2 separate regions of the Homo sapiens genome follow, and region 2 is linked to region 1. Evidence: fine-mapped expression QTL. A gene starts in region 1. The other region holds a variant in brackets. All regions are shown on one strand. Distances are from middle to middle. Region 1 holds the start of CASP4 (caspase 4). Region 2 has its middle 84 kb from the start of CASP4.

The links. PIP is the estimated chance that this variant, and not a neighbour inherited with it, causes the effect.
Region 2: its variant is fine-mapped to the expression of CASP4 in whole blood (TOPMed, PIP above 0.99).

The regions. Positions count from the first base shown.
Region 1 is chr11:104,967,082-104,969,936 of GRCh38, reverse strand. CASP4 (caspase 4) reads left to right here and starts at 1,363. Exons shown (of 9, transcript NM_001225.4): 1 at 1,363-1,418. The coding sequence starts at 1,412. LOC124902813 (a long non-coding RNA gene) reads right to left here. Exons shown (of 2, transcript XR_007062986.1): 1 at 1,777-2,855; 2 at 1,357-1,652. RefSeq lists an enhancer at 364-1,563.
Region 2 is chr11:104,883,166-104,886,097 of GRCh38, reverse strand. It overlaps the pseudogene CASP12. Among named protein-coding and RNA genes, the nearest start is that of CASP4, 84 kb to the left of the region's middle. The variant T/A (reference allele first, on the strand shown) is at 1,566.

The DNA.
Region 1 (2,855 bases):
TAAAGCTGTTGACCTTTGGATGGGATTTTTGTAGGGTCTTTTTTGTTGATGCTGTGTTATTGTTGTTTTATTTTTTTTTGTTTTTCTTCCAACATTCAGGCCCTTCCTCTGCAGGTCTGCTGCAGTGTGCTGAGGATCTACTCCAGACACTGTTCACCTATGTATCACCAATGGAGGCTGCAGAACAGCAAAGAGTGCTGCCTCCTCCTTCCTCCGGAAGCTTCTTCCCAGAGGATCACTGACCTGACGCCTGTTGGAACTCTCCTGTATGAGGTGTCTGGCAACCCCTGTTGAATGGTCTAACCCAGTCAGGAGGCCCAGGATCAGGAACTCACTTAAGGAAAGAGTCTGGCTATCCCTTAGCAGAGATGGTGCACTGGGCTGGGGGAATCCCCCTTGTCTGGATCGCTGATACTCTTCAGAGCCAGCAGGCAGGAAAGATTAAGTTGGCTGAACCTGAGACCGCAGCTGCCCCTCTCCGCAGGTGCTCTGTACCAGGGAAATGAGAGCTCTGTCTGTAAACTCTAGGTGGAGTTGCTGAAATTCCTGCAAGCATTTCTTGCCGGGAGAGGAGGGATGGATCCCGGTCCCACCTAAAGAAGCAGTCTGGCCATGATCTGCCACAGCGGCTGTGCTGCACTGTGAAGACTGCTGCCCAGTCCAATCTGCCCAGCCTCCCTAGCACTGGTAGGGAAAAACCGCTGACTAGAGCTGCAGTAATGGCAGTCGCCCCTCCCCTGGGGAACTCGGTCATCTCTGGCGTACTCCAGGCTGCTATGCTGGCTAGTGGGGATTCTAATCCAGCGGATCTAAGCTTGCAGGCTTCTGTGAGAATGGACCTGCTGCAAGGCCATTTTGCTCCCTGGCTTCAGCCCCCTTTCCATGGGAGTGGACGGGACTCCTGCCTCACTAGAGTTCCGGGAGCTGCTGGACTATGTAAAAACTCCTGCAGCTCAGTGCCTGCCCAAAAAGCTGGAAATATGAACTATTGGGTTAATTCTTATCAGGAAATGAAAAAGAGTTGTTAGATTAAACTTCTTCAGTCATTGTCGTTCTTTGTAATCAGAGAAAGAAAAACTGAGAGATCAGGAAGAGAAGAGACAGATGGATAGAAGAAGTTTGGGTGGCCACAGGAAACAAGAAAAGAAACAAGCTGAGGTGTCAACCCACAGGATAATATTTTGTCATTTTCATTTTTTTCCCCCAAGTCAGAAACTAAATTCCAGTAATTGGATGCCAATTTGCTGATGACAAGGCACTTCCTGATAATGAGTCTGGAATTCTGAGCAGCAGTTTCACAATCTGTAATTACACGTTTCCGCCCTTTGCAATAAGGAAATACATAGTTTACTTTCATTTTTGACTCTGAGGCTCTTTCCAACGCTGTAAAAAAGGACAGAGGCTGTTCCCTATGGCAGGTGAGTCCTTTTCTGACTAGGAGTTTGGGAGTAGGAACTTAGAAAACACTTGATTTATTGCTCTGAAATAAACACAAGAAAGGAAGTGAGCCGATAGCACACATGTTGAATTCCTTTTCTTACTGATTGTGTGTAGTTTGAATCATGGGACCTGGTGTTAGAGATATTGACGGAGGTCATATGTTTTCCAGATGTCTTTGAGCCAGAAAGAAGTTAATTCCTTTCTTTCAGCTTCTGGTAATCAAAGGGAGGGTAAAGAAAGCCAGAGGAAGTTATTTGTGTGAGACAATTCTAGAAGTTTCGAAATGCACTCTGAAATCTTTCTTTTGATTCCAAATTAATTGCCCAGATCACAAACCTTTTTCGCAGAATCAGATCTGAGAGCCTCTGAATTGTTATCTTCTTCGACATCTCTTATTGTGAATTACATTCTTGGTCTGTTTAAAGTGATTCAATTTTTTCCTCTTTCTCGTTGGTCCTGATACTGACTACTTTAATATAATATTTCATGGGTTAATATCACAGTTGTTTTGTTTTGCCGTTGTTATTGTTTTTAACTGGTATCCTTCCCTCCAGGACTTAACTCTCCAATCCATTCTGCACACAACTTTTAGGTCACCTGTCTTATACACAGAAGCTGAAAAAGCCTAAGGGATAGAGTTACTTAGGCAGCTAGTATTCCAGCAGGTCATAACGCTTCTTTGGCTTCATTCTCCTCACAGGAAAAGGAAGAAATTGGACTAGATCAGTGAATTCTAAACCTTATAACATATCGCAGCAATCTGTAGTCATATAAAAAAAGTCAGATGACTACCCCCTTCCTCACCGCGAATAGCTCAATCTTAAATACCCTGCAGGCATTTATTACCTTTGAAGATCGTCACATAATTCTTATGAAACTGACTTGACATAGGTTTGTTCTATTAGGAAAGTTGACCAGTTAGTTAACACTCTCTGCTTATCTGCTAGTGATCTATTAATGTAATTAACTTTGCTCAGGGACATACAGTGGCTCCCTATTGCCTTTTCTCTTTTTTACTATCTGAACTTTCAGACAATTTTTTCTACCTTTTGAAACATGTGTATCCAGTTTTTCCATTAATCTTTGTAAAGCATGATTTCAACTTCATAAAAAAATACTGTATTTACTTCACTCATATTACCTTGTTGTTGTTTCTTTACTCCTTTGATTCTCCCTATAGAACAATTCTCTCCGGGGTTTATGTCTAACTTCACAACATTTAACTTAAGCTCTGGAATCAAGGGATCATTAGATAAAGATAGGGTAAATTGAAAGCCACTAGTCAAAAACAAGTCGTGGTTTGATAATTATAAACAACCAAATGTAGACAGCTATTATTACCTTAAACTCTTGAGGAATTGTATCCTGTAATGTGTTTAAGCATTACATCACTTTGCCTGGAACCAAAACTGTGG
Region 2 (2,932 bases), 84 kb after region 1:
TGAAGGCATTATGGTGTCTATGAATCTGCTATTAGAAAAGGTCAATTTTTGATTAAGAATATTTTTATACCAAACTGCTCAGCTGTCCACCTTTTCAAATACCAGGCTAAAATCAATCTCATATTTTTGCTAAATTAATGCTTAATAAATTTTTATTATAAAATTGTGCTTGTTTTCTAATTTTGTCATAAATTAAGTCATGCTTATAGGAGAAAAAATTAAGTATTAAAAATCATAAAAAATGAAGAAATAATCATCATCAACCTTTTTAAAACTATTCATAAAAACTCAAGTTTTTTATATAGCTTATTTATTTTGTATATCCAATTTTGTGTGCTTTTATTATATTGTTATAACATTACTACTAGTAATAAAACTATCCTAAATATAACTTTTAAGTTTATAATATTCGTCAGGTATATATAGGGCATACTATTTAACTTTCACCTGACTTTTAGATGTTGATTTCAATATTCATTTATTTTATTTTACTTTTTTTTTATTTCAATAAGTTTTGGGGAACAGATTGTGTTTGGTTACATGAATAAGTTCTTTTGTGGTGATTTATGGTGCACCCATCACCCGAGCAGTGTACACTGTATCTAATGTGTAGTCTTTTATCCCTCAACCCACTCCCACCCTTTCCCCTAAGTCCCCAGAGACAATTGTGTCATTCTTACGGTTTTGTGTCCCCACAGCTTAGCTCCACCTGCTGCTCTGTCTGTCCAGGTGCGAGCTGCAAGTTAGGCCTGATTCTTATCTGTTATTTTCTCTGAAGTCTCCTATTTATTTTCTTTCTTTCTTTCTTTCTTTCTTTCTTTCTTTCTTTCTTTCTTTCTTTCTTTCTTTCTCTTTCTTTTTCTTTCTTTCTTTCTCTCTTTCTTTCTTTCTTTCTTTTCTTTCTTTCTTCTTTCTTTTCTTTTTTTCTCTCTCTTTCTTTTTCTTTTTTTAAAATTTATTTTAAGTTCTGGGATACATGTGCTGAATGTGCAGGTTTGTTACATAGGTATGCATGTGCCATGGTGGTTTGCTGCACCCATCGACCCATCATCTAGGTTTTAAGCCCCGTGTGCATTAGGTATTTGTCCTAATGCCCTCCCCCAACTTAGCCCCCACCCCTGGACAGGCCCTGGTATGTGATGTTCCTCTCCCTGTGTCTATATGTTCTCATTGTTCAACTCCCCCTTATGAATGAGAATATATGGTGTTTGGTTTTCTGTTCCTGTGTTAGTTTGCTGAGGATGATGATTTCCAGCTTCATCCATGTCCCTGCAAAGGACATGAACTCATTCTTTTTATGACTACATAGTATTCCATGGTGTATATGTGCCACATTTTCTTCCAGTCTATCATTGATGGGCACTTAGGTTGATATGATTATGAATATGTTTAACTTTTACTTTTGTCTAGAAAGAGGTTTATATTCTTAGAATGTATTACTAAAAAGTAGAATTACTGGATCCATACACTTAAACTGTTTGATAAATTATTGCCAAAATTTTTTGCCAAATTATATGCATAGAAGAAATTCAAGATAATGACTGGTAGGTAGAGGAATTTTTTTT[T/A]AAAAAAATCATTACTGATATAATAGGTAAAAATAGTCAGTTTCATTGACATGTCTTTTGTTATCGACATTATTTGACATTCTAACCACTTTATTTGCTGTGTTTTAGTGAACTGTTAATTTATTTTTTAAATTTTATTTCAAATTTTATATGTGTTTTCCTTATCAATTTGTATAAATCCTTTATATATGACAGTGTATTAGCTCATATAACATTAGGTCATATAATATTTTTAGTTAGTTCTTTGATATTATATTTTCTGTATGATATGTGATGTGGAATACTCACATTTTCAGTAATAGAATCCATTTATATTTTCTTCTGTGTTTGTTTTTATATTTTCAAGCTTAAATATTGTATCACTACCTATAATTTCTTACAATTATATTAAAGATATATTTAAATATCTTATTCTCCTTTAAATTTTATGAATTCATTCTCTAAACAATATGATTTTGCAGTGAAATGTGACATGGGGATATTATTGATTTTTTCCAATGAATTACCAGTTGTCAATGATACACCACTTGAATCATATATATATAATCATATATATATATATATACACCAATTGTAACATTGTCTTTAATATTAATTTATAATGTGTTATGGAATGGGTGTCTTGGACGATATTTAAGAAAAATACTGGACATTGGTATCTACTTTAGAGAAACTTTTACTACGAGGGATTAAAACTCACTCAAACTAGCTTAAAGAAAAAGTTTCGACATAAGCATACAACAGGTAATCTCATATTCCTCCATTATAAAAAGCAAACCACAATTAGGTCTCTGGAGATATGGTCTAGAACATTGAAAATCAGGTAATCATTCTCTTTGATTAGCATCTTCATTGTGTAATGACTCCTTCTGAATCATAAATTTTCAGATTACTAATTATGGTACTTTTAATAAATTAGCTTATCTGACACCAGTTTCCAGGTATGAAGTGGGCGTGCTAGTATCTGACTCATATTGAGCAGGTATAATATTATGTGCATGTAGCACCTCCCTGTTGCACTGCCTGCCACACAGTGGGCAATTGTTTATGGTAGAGATAATTAGTGTTACATTCACCGATTCATCTTTCAGGACTTATGCTGTATTACATTGCTAATTACTGTTTGATCATCCTCTTTAGCCCTTTCTTGTTCTTACTGTCCTTAGTCACATACTGTGTGTGTTTCCAGGTAAATTTTATAATGACTGTATAAGTTTTCTGATAATTAAAATAGGGTTCTAATGGAATTTAAATGTGTACATTTGTTTATCTAGAGCTATGGTTTTCAAATTTATTGTCATGCATTTTTTAATTTTTGAGCAAATGTTTATATTTTTCTTTGTATAACTTCCTCAAATTTCTGAATC